Regions from separate parts of the Homo sapiens genome. Here region 2 is linked to region 1. Evidence: fine-mapped expression QTL. A gene starts in region 1. The other region holds a variant in brackets. All regions are shown on one strand. Distances are from middle to middle.

Region 1 (5,382 bases):
TGATTCTCAACAATGGAATACTAATGGATACTCAAAAAACACTAATTGCTCATTTTTTTCCTAATTACGAAATGTAATAATTCTTTAGTGAAAACATTAAACATGATGTCATTTTTAAAGTGCCAGACTTTGTATTTAAAGCATTGCCACAAAATAGATAGCTTACTTATTTTACAAATAGCAACACAAAAAGGGTCTTCTGTGTCTTTAAGTCTGTTTAGCATATCTGAAAGTGCTTCTTCCTCACACTTAGATATTTAAGGCAATTGCCCCCCAGTTTATTACCTTATCTCAATTGTATAATTTTCTTAAATAGAATTCAGAGAAATAGTCATAGATTTAAATTTTTAAACACTAATTAAGCATTGGTTGATTCCCATAATACAGCTGGTAGTCAAAGTGGACAAGATAATGAATTGACTGAGATCACTGTTCCATCTTCATCCAAGAAAGCTGCCTCTAAAAAAAAAAAAGACCTTAAATTGCTGTAGAAATCCAATTTGTAAGAAGCAAAAGAAGCATATAGATGGGAAACACCAGCCAGGATCACATTAATTTTGTGACTAACTGCATTGCTTAGAAGAAGAAGAAGGAGAAGGAGAAGGAGAAGAAAGAAAAGATGACAAAAATAATAAGTCCACTCAAATCCCAATTTTAATCCAACAACATAACCAGAAGAAAATGAACTACAAATACAAAGTTCACATCTTAGTGATCTAGTGAACACTACACACCGACAAAATAATTTTTAGCTTAGTAAGAAGTAAACTCCAATGACAAGAAAATATTATAGGATTGTGATACCTCATTGCTAAAAAGTAGATTATAGTAAGAAATTGGGAGTCTAGGAACTTGCCATCATGGAAACTCCATGATTGATTGGTTTTGAATGTGCAGGTGTGGGAAACTGACAAATCATTGTAACAAAAATCTTAAACTTACTAGAATTGAAAATCTATGCAGGAAAAGTCTCTGTGACAAACTACCATTCATTTAGCCACCTATTCAAATAAAAGCTGTGACATAACAGAGATCTAGAAATAAGGGCATGGTTTCCAATTTTTTGTTGGAATGTTCTAATAAACTATCTTCTCAGGTATCAACTATATAAGGTCACGACTGACCGCTAATTGACAGGCAATTTATCGGCACCAGCAATTTACATTAAAAATAGTGGGCTTGGAGATATTTTCAAATATGTTTACTATGAGTTAAGTTGAAAAATAAAAACCACTATAATCAGTAAGGATTTAAAAATAAGAGATCCATATAAAATGCTATAAGCAAAGGAAAATGAGAAACATTTCTGGGGAGACACAAGTGAGTTTTATTATACTTCTTCTTTTAAGTTTTAGAACTAAAGTAATAGTTGATATTCAACCCATAGAATCATCCTTCAGGGGCATACACATCTAGGTTTGAATGCGGAAAACTGTTTTATTGTTTTTTTTTAATTTTTAGGTTTCTTTTTCAAGAACTTTCTTATTAAAACTTAAATACTTATTGAAGTGATTCATGAAACCTCACAGAAAGGGGAATTCATGCTTGACACATTACTTAACATGCTCCATAGCTTCCCCACTGTAGTTCATATGCTTCTGAACATATTTTACCTGGGAAATAATAGTCTTATTCACACACACACACACACACACACACACACACACATCCTTCCACATAAAATGCTATAAGTCCCAGGAAACTGACAAAAGCAACATTAAAATTTTGTGCAAAATCTAAACTCCATTTCTGAATTCCATCTATGAAAATACAACATTGGTTCTATTTAACTAAGTGCAAAGTTTTCTCTCTGTTTAATATGCATAATAAACATCATCCTTACCATTATCTGTAGAATAAAAGCAGCAACGTGTTGCTTCCTGCAGTCACCAAATCAAGTTTTTTCTTCCTTTCTTTCTAGTAACTTCTGTTTCACCAGCAAGATTAGGAAGAAAATAAGTCTTGAGTATTTGCCTCAGTATTTCAGACCAGAAGATAGTGAAACTAGCTTTTAGTAAAAAGAACAGGTCTGGTATTTTACAATTACTTCTGCAACCCAGAGGTACCTCCTAGACTCTGGTACCTCCCTCGTTCTCTAAGTTTCTTTTAGTAATGAGACTAATTTTTCCAGTAGTCTTGAACTCCCTAGATTTAACTGACATGGAAAATGTGACTAAAAATTTGTGGAACTGTCTAGCCTCCAACCCTACACAGAATCAACTTTGTTGTAAATGTTGAAGAACACCTCGCAAGCAGCTACATGCTCAGTTTATACTCCTGCGCTACGCAGCAGAGAACACCAAATAACAGTGCGCCATCTAGTTAGCAAGCTGCAATCTCCATGCTAGAAGGGGGGACACTTTCAAACCCTGGGAGTTAAGAACTTGTCAGGGTTCAGCTGCTCTAAAGGTCCAATTGTTTGTTTAAATAAAAAAAAATATCGCTACTGAGATAATCCACATCTAGTGGATATGGGAAAATTTAGGTTATAATGGCACTACAAACTTTTACATCTAACTTTGATTTACAAGATAAAAGCAAGTTTTAAATTAAAAGGGCTTTCTGTTAATAGAGCTTATTATTCTGAAGACGGGAATGATTTTCTTCGAAAGTTGTCCCTGGGTGCATGCCTATTATCTTTGCTTTTCCCCTTCCACTAATGAGCATTTATCTAAAGAGCCTGTTAATCCTCTGATGTGTGCTTCTGGTCAGAGGTAACAGTTTGAATAAAACCACTAATCACTGATCACTAAATCACTGATCATTAATCACACTTTCCAGTGCCCATGACTGGGCCATTTTTTTTCCTTTAAGTCTATGCATCACAAACAAGAAGTTCAACATTTTCGATGCACATATATTGTGTGGAGGTTACACTATTTCATCTCTAGATGTGAATAAATACTAAATCCTGCCACAGACTTGGGGAAGGATGTCAATTAGACCCCAGACAGGAGTTTCACAAATGCCTACCCTACAGCATGGCTTTCGCTTTGAAGAAAGTAGATCTAATTATAAGAAAACATGTGTTCTTCAAGAAATTCCCACATATTTGCAATATAAACTTTTCTTTATTTAGTTTTCACCAACTCCAAATCAGGGACCACTCCAATCCCCTCTCTCCCTCTATCCAAAACTCTGTTAATACTTTTTTAAATTTAATTTCTGCTGCACACCTCCCTCACGCCCCCACCCCCCCACCCCCCACACCGAGGGTTCTTTTTACTTTGATCCCTTGCAACAAGTCATACACAGGGTCTTTATTTCAACTGCCAGATACGGAGGTTCTGACTCAGTTCAATGACTTACGTATTCGACTTCCTCTTTCAACATAGAAACTTAAGGTTAAGAGCTAGAAACTAACGCACGCAGCAATTTATTGTATGGAAGTTTAGGTTCAACGACTCACATTCCCTCACTTTGGAAATGAAACGTTTAGTCTTGATCCTTTCAGCTAAACCTGATTTTGTCAGCATCCCTCTTCTGCTAAAGGGCAGGCACTACGTAAAGTGAAATACTTTGTTTGCAGTGGGTGTATTGCTTTCCTAAGTCACCACCACGAGGACAGAGTATTATCATAACGCTTGCAAACATTTCCTGATTTGCCTTTTCTATCAGGACTAAGCATTTTCGCCCTAGAGGAGAAGGCTTACTGGTGCCTTTCTTAAATAATACAAAAGGGCGGATTGCGCGCTGATCAGGTACAGTGGTCCCCTCAGACCCCAGAAGCTTTTACCCACACTCCAGGGACCGTGCTCGCCCCAGGGAAAGCTGTAAAAAGGCGGGGGCGGGGCTAGAGTGATAACGGTGTAGACGGGGGAGTGGTGGAGAGGGAGGGGCTGGGAAGAGAGGGCAATAAAGATGCCCAGGGAGCCGGCGATTGCACGAGTGTGTTGTGGGGAGGGTAGGGGGATGCAAAGCAGAGTTGCTTTGTCAGCATTCTAAGCTCCTGAACCCTTGAGGAGCTCAAGCCGTTAATCAAACACTTACTGGCCTGCAGAATGACGTAATGGACCTGTATCCAGTCTTTATTCCTTGACACATGTCAGAGAAGGAGGGAAAAATAAAAATCAAACACATTCTGCAGACTGACAACGAAATATACAAGTAGCCCGCTCCAGTCCCCGGCCTTGAGCAAGCATCAAGTGGGGGCGGCACCGGTCCAGGGAAAGTTGGGGATGGGGGTGAGAGTGTGGACAAGGTCTAGGGCTTTATCTACCAGACGCCCCTTAAAAATAAATCTATGGCAAAGAAGAAGCGGGATGCAGCTGCTGAGAGAAAACATCTCCTTGGTTCCTTCCTTCGCATCTTGCCCCTCTAAGAACTTCGTGAAAAGTTCAAGTGATTCTGCCGAGAATCTGCCGCAGGGGGAGACTCCGCCGCCAGGTCTTGGGAATTGCCTGGGCGCCGCCAAAGCTCGAGCCGGAGCTGTCATTTGGGGCAGCGGCCGGGAAGAGGTAACGATGCCAGCAAGAAAGCAGCGGAGGCAGGAGGCGGCCGGAGGAGTGGACTGGAGCGGACGGAGCCTCGCCGCTCTCCAGCCCGGAGCGCCTGGAGCGAAAGCCAAGCGCCCTCCGAGGGCGACCTCCCCTCCCCGGGCGCGCGCCCACCCGCTGCAGCCGGCAGCCCGGCGGGAGAGGTGGCAGCTGCAGCTCCGCACCGGGGAGAGCGAGCCCCCTGCGCGCGCGCCCACCCGCCCCCTAGGTGACCCGGCGTCCTCGCCGCGCCCGCTGGAAGTTTGCAAACTTTCTCCGGGGGTTCCGCCGCCACGCTGGGAAGCTGGGGACGCGGGGGGAGGTTCCTGGCTCGCCGTCTCCGCTGCCGCTTGACCGCACTTCTGGAGGGCTCCGCACCTTGCCAGGTCTCTGGAGGCAAACACACACCCCCGATTCATAACTGGTCCCCGCGTCAGGGGACTCGCGCGCTCCCACACACGCACGCACGCCGGGCGGACTCGGCGCCGGCTCCACGTTAGCATCCCTCCAGGCGCGCGGCGCGGCGGCCACCGAGCGCTCCGGCACTCACGCGGCGCGGGGTCTCTAGGGTGGCCTCAGGACACAGCCGAATTCCACAGTCTACCAGCACTCGGGGCCGGACTTCCCTCTGGTCCGCCAAAATGTTTACAAACACAGATCACCCTCCAGAAAAAAATGCATCGCATCTTCCCTACTCCTTGCCCTGTGACCTGCCCACTGGACCAAGTAACCTCGCGGCTGCTGCCGAGAACCAACCCCTGCAAACAAGTACACTCCCGAGATGGCTCCTGCGGCAAGTGCAACAAAAGTGGCTAAATGCAAAAGCCCCAGAAGTGGCCGAGCCGTATTTTTAGGAACTTACCAAACAAGTGTGGAGAAGGCAAGAGCGGAGCCCGGGTGAAGGGAC
Region 2 (5,382 bases), 270 kb before region 1:
AAGTCAGCTCCAGGTGCTCCCAGAGAGAAGACAAGGGAGTGATCTGCCCTTGGTGACTCCTGTCGTGTAACTACTGCACCTCCTATACCCCAACCCTGGCACTAAGTACCCTTAGGCAATTCACTGGCCTTTCCTGTGTCAAAACCTATTTGTAATTCACGGATGTGGCAATGCTGAATGTGTCTCAAACAAAGGAATGAATTTATAATGGTGGAGGCATCAGGAAACCTTTGGGGGTGGATATTAAGAGGTCACAAGAGCCATTTGATTAGCCCTAAAATATTGTCATCAATTCTGCTTCCTATAGTGTTTTTTCTCTAACTTCTTAAAATGTGCAAGTCATTGTACCACTTAAACCTAAACCAATGTCTGAAAGACCGTTGACACTCCTGGAATATTTGTTGAATAAATGAATGAGTGAATGAATGAATACAATCCTCAGCTCAGGCATTATCTTTTCCATGGTCTCCTTGCTGGGCTACCAGACTGGGATAAGGGTGGCCATTACTCTGTGCTCCTTTGGCGTCCTGAAGCAGATTGTATCCCAGCAATAAGCCAGCTATGGAGAGGATCTCTTCATGCTTGTCTTCTTCAGCAGCCATTTGCTTCTCCAGGGCAGAGACTGTGCTATACATCTTCATTTCCCTAGCACCTAGCACCTGGCCCATACATAGTAGGTCCCTAAGAAATGTGACTGGGACTGGGCGTGGTGGCATACATCTATAGTCCTGCTACTGGGGCTGAGGTGGAGGATCACTTGAGCCCAGGAGTTCAAGACTACAGTGAGGCATGATCGCACCACTGCACTCCAGGCTGGGAGACAGAGCAAGATTCTGTCTCTAATAATGATAATGATAATAATAGTAATAAATTAATTAAAGAAAAAGAAATGTAACTGAGCCTGAACTAGCGGCAACACAGGCTGCTCGGTCTTCCCTGAATATGTTGCCTCCTGAAAGTTCTTTTTCCTGTTTGTATTATTGCTCACACTTTTTATGCAGCTTCCTAAAGATCTGAAGCATCTAGAAAACCTATAATAAGAAAATCCTAGGAAATCTACTAGTCAGCCTTCTCCATCCCTACACTATACCTTTTCTCCCTGGAGGGCCTCAGATTCCTCTTGCTCCCTTTTTTTGGACCCCCACAGCAGGGATGGCAGAATGAGCACTCTGTGGTGGATGTCAGAGCAGCTGATCCTAGACTATTGTCACCAGCTTCCTACATGAGGCACCCAGGGAAATTGGAACTTGAGGTGAGAGCAGCTAAATATTCTCCTGTTGGGACTTCTTGCACAGTTGTTGAGGTGCCCTAAAAAAGGAGACACTGCCACCAGGACTTTATCATGTCCAAAGAAAGGTGATGTCAGTTCTAACCAATCTCTATGACTAGAGTGGGCACTACAGGAAGAACTCAAATAATGGTGGGGGAACAGGAGGTCCAATTTTTTTTTTTTTTTTTTGAGATAGGTTGATACAGTGTCTTGTTCTGTTGCCTAGGCTGGAGTGCAGTGGCATGATTTCAGTTCACTGTAGCCTTGACCTCCTGGGCTCAAATGATTCCCCCACCTCGGCCTTCTGAGTAGCTGGAACTACAGGTGTGCACCACCATGCTTGGCTAATTTTGTTTACATTTTGTAGAGACAAAGTCTCCCTATGTTGCCTGGGCTGGTCTTGAACTCTTGGACCCAAGTGATCTTCCCAGCTTGGCCTTCCAAAGTGCTGGGATTACAGGTGTGAGCCATAGTGCTCGGCCAAGGAGGTCCAAACTTTTGTGGGTAAAAGTTTATACGGGATTGGAGCCTAATGATGTTGTCAGACTAACTACACTGATTCATGTTCTGGTGTTGAGTGGAGCCAAGACAAGGCATAGTAGCTGATCAAGACTGGCTCAGAGCAGTTATGCTTGGGAGAGGTGGACAACCCAACTGATGATGTCCAAGAAAGAGGCCTTTCCTGGAGGCTCTGTGGGGAACCTTGGTTAAAGGAGATTATCAACCAAATTCCTACTTTCCCCTTTGACCAAGGGTGGTGACTGGACCAGTCCAGGTTGAAGCAAGTGAGGTGCCTA[G/C]GGTGCAAAATTTAAGGAGGTACTCACTCTCAGGTGCAGGTCTGCAATTGTCCAACCCTGAGAATAATTGCCCCCTTAAATGTTGAGCCATAGGGGGCTCATTTGTGCCCCTTAGTCCCAGCCTCGTTTGGAGATAATTTTCTACTCTGTGTACTCATGAGCATGGGTAGGGTTAGTAGAAAAATATCAGGTGAAGCTCTGGGCCTGCCTGGCTCTTTGGGGAGATGGAGAATGATGCCTGCAACAGACTAGACTCTTCCTTAGTGTCAGCTTTCATCAGCCTTTCCTTCTTCTCAATTAGCCACTGTGAGCTGAGAGCTGAACTAAAAGTTGTCTGATACCAAAGTTGGGAATGCGACCATTCGCTGTTTTGTACTGATACACTAACACCTTTTATAATCCAGGTGTTCCTCATGACCTGGGTTAATCCATGTGTCCAGAAGCAAGCACTGTTACCGGCCCTGGAATCAGGAGAGGCAATGTGGGAAGACAACCATCTTAGGAACATCATGATTCTGACCAGGAAGATTTTCCAAGGGATGAGGGTTGGAGTAGAGGCAGAGAAGAACAGAGCATTTTTGTGGCATAACATCAAAAAGTAAGAAATGTAGAAGGCCACTTCCCTCGGGTCCTAAGAAGGCCTTACACTGCTCACCTGGTCTTCGTCCCCTCCCTTTTACACCCTGAAATCTCATCAGGGCCCACACTCTGAGCCAAACTTGCAAAGTAAATGCCTGCCTCTTTCCTGGAACCCCTAAGCCACTGGTTTCCAAGGCTGCCCTGGTGGGTCTCCCCATTTCACAGAGAGGAAAACTTGGGGCTGCCAGAAGCTGACCATCATTTGCTGAGAATTTTTATCTGGAAAAGCAGTTCATGGGGACTTTCATAATCAGTGGAAAAATGTTGTCCCTTTGCACATGATAAGTTCAAAACACTGCAGTATCTGCTTTCTGAATATTCTCCCTCTGTCTCCCCTCAGCACTTTGCAATTCCACATAAAGGCCCTCAGAAAAGGATTACTTACGTATCTGCAGGATAACCCTGAAAATATACTCCGCTGGCTGTTTTCATTGTTAAAACATGCTTAAATGAAAAAAAAAAAAAAAAAGAACTACAAAAGTAAAAATGAGTTTGAAGAGGTTTTGAAGGTATTAGAAATAAAAAGGCAAGCTTAAACTAAGGAATTGTATTTGTGGTTTCATTTCTTTCCACAAGGATTCCAGCTGTAGAGCTCTGTGTCTATCTAATAACTGACCTTCTCTTACACTGAGCAGAGAAGTTCACCAGCACTGATTTATTAAGAGGGTTTCTGCAAGGAGAATTCGCCCTCCAACACTTTTGCCCGGAGGGGATGAGAAGAATTTTTTTTAAACCCCAAACATGAAGCTCTTGGGTCTTCCAAATGAAATTATCTATGTTTTTATTAACTGGGCCCCTGAGTTAAAAAGTTGGTTTTGATAAGGGTGAATAAATGAAAGAGAAAACTGCTGACATAATATTTTGGTTTCCAAACCCACTTCCACATTCTACTGTCCCTCTCAGGCCCATACATGACTGTGGTTTCTCTATTTACACCAGAATCCTGGAGAGAAAGGTGCAGTTAATCCTGCTTTATGGTAAAATTCATCTCTAAACTTTAATAAAATGATCATAGTGACTCTTTTAAATGCTTTGGTATAAGTTTTGATTTTTCTAGACATGGAGTACTATATGATTTATAAATAATGCAGGCTTGTATTTTCCTTTTATTTTTATTTTTATTTTTATTTTTTTTGAGCAGAGTCTCACTCTGTCGCCCAGGCTGGAGTGTAGTGGTGCCGTCTTGGCTCACTGCAACCTCCACCTCCGGGGTTCAAGCAATTCTCCCACCTCAGCCTCCCAAGTGCCTGGGGCTACAGGCGCACACCACCACACCCAGCTAATTTTTGCATTCTTAGTAGGGACGGGGTTTCACCATGTGGGCCAGGCTGGTCTTGAACTCCTGACCTCAAGTAATCCACCCGCCTTGGCCTCCCAAAGTTCTGGGATTACAGGCGTGAGCCACTGCACCCAGCCTCTTTTCCATTCTTACAAGAGGAAAAGTAGATATTATGATGTCCAAGGTGTTCTATAGATTTAGGAGTAAAAAGATTCTAAATTTCTTATTTCTTACAAAGTTGAAAATTCTTCCTTTATTAATAGAAATGGGAAGGAAAGTGAGATTCATGCACTGTCTGGGCCAATCCCAGTGCCCTTTCTTTCTCTCTCTCTTTCTCTCTTTCTTTCATTTTTAGAGATGGGGTCTCACTGCATTGCCCAGGCTGGAGTGAAGTGGCTGTTCACAGGCACAATCATAGCTCTCTGTAGCCTCAAACTCCTGAGCTCAAGTTATATTCCCACGTCAGCCTCCCACGTAGCTGGAACTACAGTACAGGTATGTGCCACCACACTCGGCCAATTCCTTTCTTTTAGCACCCACCCAAACTGGAAAGCATGCATTTAAGCTGGTGTTAGAATATACTTTTCTTGGGCAATAATCCTCCTTGAAAAATCTAATGAACACTCTGACTCCTCCTTTTAACCATGGACCCCAGGTTAAAAACCCCCAAGAGAAAAAGTATGCTCACTTTGTATTAAACTTCAAGCTATGCTCTTTTACAGGTAAAGAAAAGCAGGCACGAAGACATGAATCTCAATCCCTTGAAGGCTGACCCTTGGCCTGGCACTCCAACCAGCAAACATCAGTCAGTGGTTCTCAGATGTGGTGTGCCTGAGAATGTCTGGGGAATAGATTAAAACGTAGGTCTCCAGGTATTACCTTGGAGATTATATAGGTCAAGGTGGGGCCTTATTTCTGTGGTGCTATGACAGAATATGTATTTTTAAGCAAAACTCCCCAGAGATTTTGATGCTAGTGATCCATAGTCCACACTTCTACGTGGTCATCCTATGGTCATGGAAATTTTATAAATAAATTAATTAAGTTGATAACGTAAATGAAAAAAATATATAAATACATTCATATGTCTCTGCTGTCCATGCTCTAAAGGAGCTGTGATTTCCTTTCCCCTCTTCTATTTTAAGATAAAAAGTATTTAGTAATCTGTCCTAAAGTGATCAAGCCTTTAGACATTGGCTATAGTGACTTTTCCAAAACAGGATGCCCACAATGGATGGAAAGAAAACATCTGTGTTCACAGTAACATAACACCCATCTGAACAGTCTATGGCATTATGGTCTCCAGGACCCATGATAAGATTAGGGTTTCCTGACCTGTGGCTAGTTTTGCAAGACATTTCTCTTCTATGTTTACTATCAACATTTCCAGATGTTTA

What was found. PIP is the estimated chance that this variant, and not a neighbour inherited with it, causes the effect.
Region 2: its variant is fine-mapped to the expression of CREB5 in whole blood (INTERVAL, PIP 0.94).

The regions. Positions count from the first base shown.
Region 1 is chr7:28,409,379-28,414,760 of GRCh38, reverse strand. It overlaps CREB5 (cAMP responsive element binding protein 5), which reads right to left and starts at 2,243. Exons shown (of 11, transcript NM_182898.4): 1 at 1,844-2,243. The coding sequence starts at 1,846. RefSeq lists an enhancer at 2,157-2,246.
Region 2 is chr7:28,676,846-28,682,227 of GRCh38, reverse strand. The region is part of intron 5 of CREB5 (cAMP responsive element binding protein 5); the gene reads right to left. Among named protein-coding and RNA genes, the nearest start is that of CREB5, 270 kb to the right of the region's middle. The variant G/C (reference allele first, on the strand shown) is at 2,068.